Regions from separate parts of the Homo sapiens genome. Here region 1 is linked to region 2. A link means that fine-mapping ties the variant in region 2 to the plasma level of a protein whose gene starts in the linked region. Region 2 holds a variant in brackets. A gene starts in the other region. All regions are shown on their reverse strands.

Region 1 (3,036 bases), not on the chromosome of region 2:
TGTCTTTACCTTTCAACATCAAGAAGCCCTGGCCCCTGATCACTAAGCAGGCTGTAATCCAGTCATTCCAAACTACCTGTGGTTCCTTGAATAAGTAATGCTGTTTCACTTGTCTGCATATGCATAGCAAAATCTTTTCCTATTCTGATTCTCCACTTAACTCATCCTAAACCCCTGCTCAAGTATCATCATTGCTGTGAAGTCTTCTCTGATTAGCTCCAAACATAGTAACCATTTCCTCCAAGGTTTCATTTCTTTTTCTTATTTTAGAGATGTGATCTCACTCTGTCACTCAGGCTGAGGTTCAGTGGCCTGATCATAGTTCACTGCAGCCTCAAACTCCTGGGCTCAAGCTATCCTCCCAGTTCGGCCTCCCAAAGTGCTGGGATTACAGATATGAGCCACCTCGCCTGGCCTCCAAAGTTTGTTATACTTTTCTCTCTTAACAGTGGTTTCCACATGTTATTGCAATTACTAGACCATATATTTTTACAGTGCAAAACTATCCCTTGTTCCTTCATGTACTGCCTCCACCCATCACATTGCCTGGCATTCATGAGTGCTAAAAACTTTTCATTGAATACAATACTAAGTAAATGAAGAAATGTGGGATTAAAAATGAATGCCTACAATGAACCAAGCTTTCTGCTGAGTTACCTGAATATTACAAAGAAGCAAAAATTATTACTGTAGAGGAACAATTACCCTGCTTGGAATGCAGAGATTATGTCAGCATACAAAATTGATTGCTTGATCAATCTGGAGTAGAATAGCTCATGAAGCATAGCTATACTTAATAATATAGCAAAGCAGAGGGGCCTGAGAGGGTCTTACTGCTTAATCTCTGTCCATCATGTCTTAGACCTACAGACAACTTGAGTTCAATGATTATGATGCCCCTCACCTCAGGGATCTGTTTCCATCCAGCTTCCAAAGATGGGCATACACCAGCACAAGCATAGAAAAATAACAAATCTGTATATTGGACCCTCTGCTTAGCAGTGAGAAAGCAGGTTTGAAGACAATAAAGCCAGGCCTGTATGTGGAGATTGGCACCATGACCCTGGATTATGTTTTATGGGATATGCCTCCAAGGGCAACTCTGCATTTATCCCATGGCCTCTGGCTTCCAAATTTTCTAGGCACTTCCCTCTGGGGTAAAGGAATCAAAATTGGCTTATTTCCCTTGCAAACCATCCTTGGCGACTAAGTACTGCCTTGTCTTCTACTGAGAGATGGCCATATTTTTGGCACCTGCCTTTCCTTGTGGGAGGTGTTTCCTCTGTTTACATAGCAAAGGGGCTGTAGGAGAGACAGACGGAGCTGGACTTACAGCAGAACCAAGTCATGATAGCCTGTTTCTATTTTGTTTTCAGCATTTTTCCGCCAGTTCTGGCCACCTCCTTTCCTCTGGAACATGCTGATTTCAGCAAGTCCAGCTCTGTCAGCTCTGCCCCCCGAGTCTATTGGTTTCTGATCATCTGATAATGCTTTGCCTGCACTCAGGACCTGTCTTTGTCCCTCCTCTTAACATACTTGCAGCTAAAACTAAATATTGCTGCTTGGGGACCTCCTTCTAGCCTTAAATTTCAGCTCATCACCTTCACCTGCCTTGGTCATGGCTCTGCTATTCTCCTTGATCCTTGGTGAGTATCTCTGCACCTGTTGGTTTAGGCTTCAGAGTTTTCTGGCACTTTGATTAGGAGAACTTTCTCCCCGCCAACCTGGAACAGATTTAGATGTTTTTCAAGGATGAGCTTCTTCCTCCTTTTTACATTTGGTAACTATTCTAATCCTTAAAAAGCCGCTTAATCCATACACATTTGTAATTCACTTTAACAGATTTTTTTCTATTTTCTTATATTTGTAATGACAGAGTCATGATAGTTTATCCCATTTCTCTTTTTACATAAGTGTTCCTAAATGTACTATTAGTAAGAAGACAAATGAATGGGCACCGGGCAGCAGCAAGTAGAGCCAGGAAAGGAAGTAGAACTGCAAGACAATCACCTTTCATTGATCATATTGTCTGGTTTCCTCTGAAAAGTGTTTCATATAATGTTTTTCTAGTTTTCTTCAGTTTCTCATTGCTTAGAGTAATCTAGAGATTAACCTAGTTAATCTGGTGATTGTGGAGCCAAGGAGACCTGGATTTCAATCCTGCCGTTTTGATTTCTTAGCGGTGTGAATTCGTAGGTTACCATACCTCTCTGAAATTTTGCTCTCTCATCTATGAAGTGAGGATAATATTATGTTCCTCAGAGGTTTTTAGGAGTATTTTTTTTTATAAGATAACTAATATAAAGCATCTAACAATGCCTGGTAAATCCCTATGCTAATCAATCACATCCACTTTTATGTCTTGATGATCTAGTACATCACCAAAGCCCACACAATCCTCTCAACTGGACACTTTTGTGTTCAATGTAAGGTACTGACCACATCTTAAACATCCATGCATCCCCCACATCACTCAACGGCTAGTCCTGCCCCTCATGGATATACTACTGGGTCTTCCAGGCTCATGTGCACTTCCACCTGCTTCATGAAGCCTTTCTGGCCTGTGCCTTCTGCAGTTACCCACCCTACTGCAGAGCTTCCAAGTCACTTACTGGCTATATCACGTTTGCACCTGCATATCAGGCTTGCCATGCTCACTTTCCTTCACATGTACACATGTTGGGTTGGGGTTATGCAATGATTCCCATATGTATAATATAACCTTGAGTTTTGGATAGTTGCAGAAAAGGCCTCATTGAGCCTGAGAGTGGCCACATTCTGAAGATTAAGGGAATGAGGGTAATGAGAGGTTATTTGGAAACCAAGAAAAGAAAATATTCCAGGATAAACCACTGAACTACTTGAATCTGCCTGAAAAACTGTAGGCTGGAGGTCCAAAGATATTTGCACCTTCTGAAAAATCCTATAAGATGGGGGTGGTGGGTGTTTTGCAGTTGAAAATGCATAGGCCTCAGGGACTCCTGGAGGTTACAGGGCCCAGGACTCTCTACAGCATTAGGAGGGACCTTATGGAGA
Region 2 (2,500 bases):
TCCCCTAACGGAAAGGCCAGGCTCCGCGTGGACGGCCAACTCCCTGCCCGCTCCTTCAGCAGGTGACTGTCTCTGCCACTTCTTACCTGCTGAAGGATCTTGCTCAGTAGCTGGAACAATGCTGCTGTCACACAGTCTCTTCTCTGAAACTTCAGGATGCTCCTTGGTCACCAGGCAATGGGAGCTGTAGACCAGCCGCATGCACTTGCCCCACATTCACTGCTGACTGGCTTCACTGGAATAGGTTCAGGTCACCGGGACTTCTCTCAGAGTCAGCGGCCCACCCAACTCCCTCATACCGTCGCATCTGAAAATTTTCAGAGAGGAATTCTCTTTGTAGTCGGCTTGTCAGGGTTTTCAAGTTTTTCTATGGTTATTTTTAAATCTCTTTTTTTAAATGCTAAAATTAATGTCCTCATTAATGCAAGTAATTTTAGAGCACAGTGTAGCCATGTACAGTTTCCATTATTTAAAATAAATAAATGTGTTGGTTCATTTGGTGTATGGGGGGACATCATGGTAACTGGAAATGAAAGTTTAATCTTTCACAAATGTGCTTGATAAAGCTGTTAAGAATTGTCTTTCCTAAGTATGTTAACTGTTGTATCTAACTCAACTGTGAGCTAAGTTTAAAAACTGCAATCATGAATGTTTGTGATATTTTAAATATCTACTACAGCACATTCAGCCAATAAAGAATCTGCCTTTAATGTAAGTTGTAATTTACTTGACATTTTTCCCTAAGTGTCTTTATTTCAACATTTTCATATTTCTACTGTTAACACCCAAAATACTTACATTCTGGTTAACCCTGTATTGGTAAACACATTGTCAGAAACCATCTGTCAGGTCCTGCTAATTCTGTTTGCTGGGGACTTACCATGTGCGAGGCACACCATGAAGTGCCTCGTTGAATCCTCACAACAGCCTTATGATACATGTGGGCTAGCTTACCGCCACGTCCATTTAGCAGAGGAAGGAATCAGGGCTTAGAGAGAGGTTGGTGACTTCCGTAAGACTGCAAGGCAGTAAGTAGCAGGACTCATGTTCACACTCTGGCTCTGTATGTCCTTGACTTCACTACTGCTCAGCTCTTCCTTCCAGCGGAATATGCTTTCTGACATCCATCCACCTGGGTCACAGCTCAGAGAAAGTTCATCAATTCCAGAGGCTAATAAACAGTAGCAACACGGAAACCGGTAGTGCTTTTATGGCTCAGAGTGGAAGGTAAAGGCCTAAAAACCCCATACCCAAGTGAGGGAGTTCAAGGACTACTATTCCAACAAGTCAGGGGGGACTTCTTGGAAGAAAGGGGGATTTCAAGAGCTACTTGAGTTACAGAACCCTGGTTTAGTGGGTAAGAGGAGATGAATATGAAATAAGTTAGATGAAAGCCGAGAGAGAAACCAG[G/C]ACCTGGAGCAAGTTAACGAGGCAGCTGAGAAAACAAATTAGGGAGGTTCAAGGTACTTCAGTGCTCCAGTGGCATTTCATTTCCAGCACACCCATGTTCTTTGTGGGTCACAGCATGGCTTCATGTGAGTTAGCTGAGCTGGCCTCACTTGAATGGGAAAGAGCTATTAGAAATCACTTGGTTTTTTACTAAGACTTTCTTTATCAGTGTACCATGAAAGAGCATATTCTAGAAATGATTTGGGCATTGCAAAACAAGCATCATTGCCTTAGGCTGAGCACACTGACTCATTCTCCTGTCTCTTGTCATCTTTGCATGTAGATTTTTTTAAAGGGAAGAAATAGAAGAGATTATATTTTTATTCTGGATTTGGTACAAGGTGGTGGTGTGTATTTCTGTTTTGATCACGTGCTATGGGATATTCTGTTAGTTTCATAAGCGTGTTGTGTAATGTTTTCAGAAAAGTTACAAATTTTAACTAGTTTTTAAATCAAGATTAGGTTTCTAAAAGTCAAATATATTTTATGTAATATTCATAAAATAATTATGCATAGACTAAACTTGCATACATTTTTGTCACTGAACATTTATCTGTTGGTTCTGTTGCAAAGATTTTCATATAGATCTGTGAACTGCTCTGAAAGATATATTTAATATATCACTCCTCAATTAGAGCAGCAGCCATAATTATTTTAGCTTTGCTTTAAACACAGTTGCATATTACTCTATACTAGGGCCATTATGCTTTTTGTGTGCTGATCTCATCTCATTTCTGCTCCCCCAGAGGAGGATTTATTACATTGAGGTTTATTACGTGTATTACTGGAAAGCCTTTCTGTACCTGGCCAGGTTAGAAATATATAGCAATAAACATCTTACGGACAAGACCTGGGTCTTTGGGTAACTTGTTTGCAGTTTGGCTAATGAAAGGCAGTAGGATATCAGAGTGTCTTTCTCCTGTCTAGGCACAGAAAATCCTAGACAAAGTGGGCAGTGAAGCTTGTCTTGTGCCTTCAACAGTGTTTTACCATGACTGGAAGCCGTTGGTTTTCTTCTTGTGGTCACTGTTGATATTTTCATGGTTGTTAT

Which allele goes with the higher level. Positions count from the first base shown, and alleles are read on the strand shown. Strength reflects both the effect of a copy and how common the allele is.
For the plasma level of the protein whose gene starts at base 1,512 in region 1, allele C in region 2 goes with a higher level than allele G (weak association).

The links. A credible set is the group of variants that fine-mapping cannot tell apart. PIP is the chance, under the fine-mapping model, that this variant and not a neighbour inherited with it causes the effect. The UK Biobank Pharma Proteomics Project read protein levels with antibody pairs (Olink). The fine-mapping took linkage between variants from a reference panel, not from the people measured, so its PIPs are less certain.
Region 1: it holds the start of CD5L, and the variant in region 2 is the best candidate, but not a certain one, in a credible set for the plasma level of the CD5L protein (UK Biobank, PIP 0.67).

What each region holds. Positions count from the first base shown.
Region 1 is chr1:157,840,284-157,843,319 of GRCh38, reverse strand. CD5L (CD5 molecule like) reads left to right here and starts at 1,512. Exons shown (of 6, transcript NM_005894.3): 1 at 1,512-1,646. The coding sequence starts at 1,619.
Region 2 is chr6:483,364-485,863 of GRCh38, reverse strand. EXOC2 (exocyst complex component 2) reads left to right here. Exons shown (of 28, transcript NM_018303.6): 28 at 1-710. Among named protein-coding and RNA genes, the nearest start is that of IRF4, 93 kb to the right of the region's middle. The variant G/C (reference allele first, on the strand shown) is at 1,411.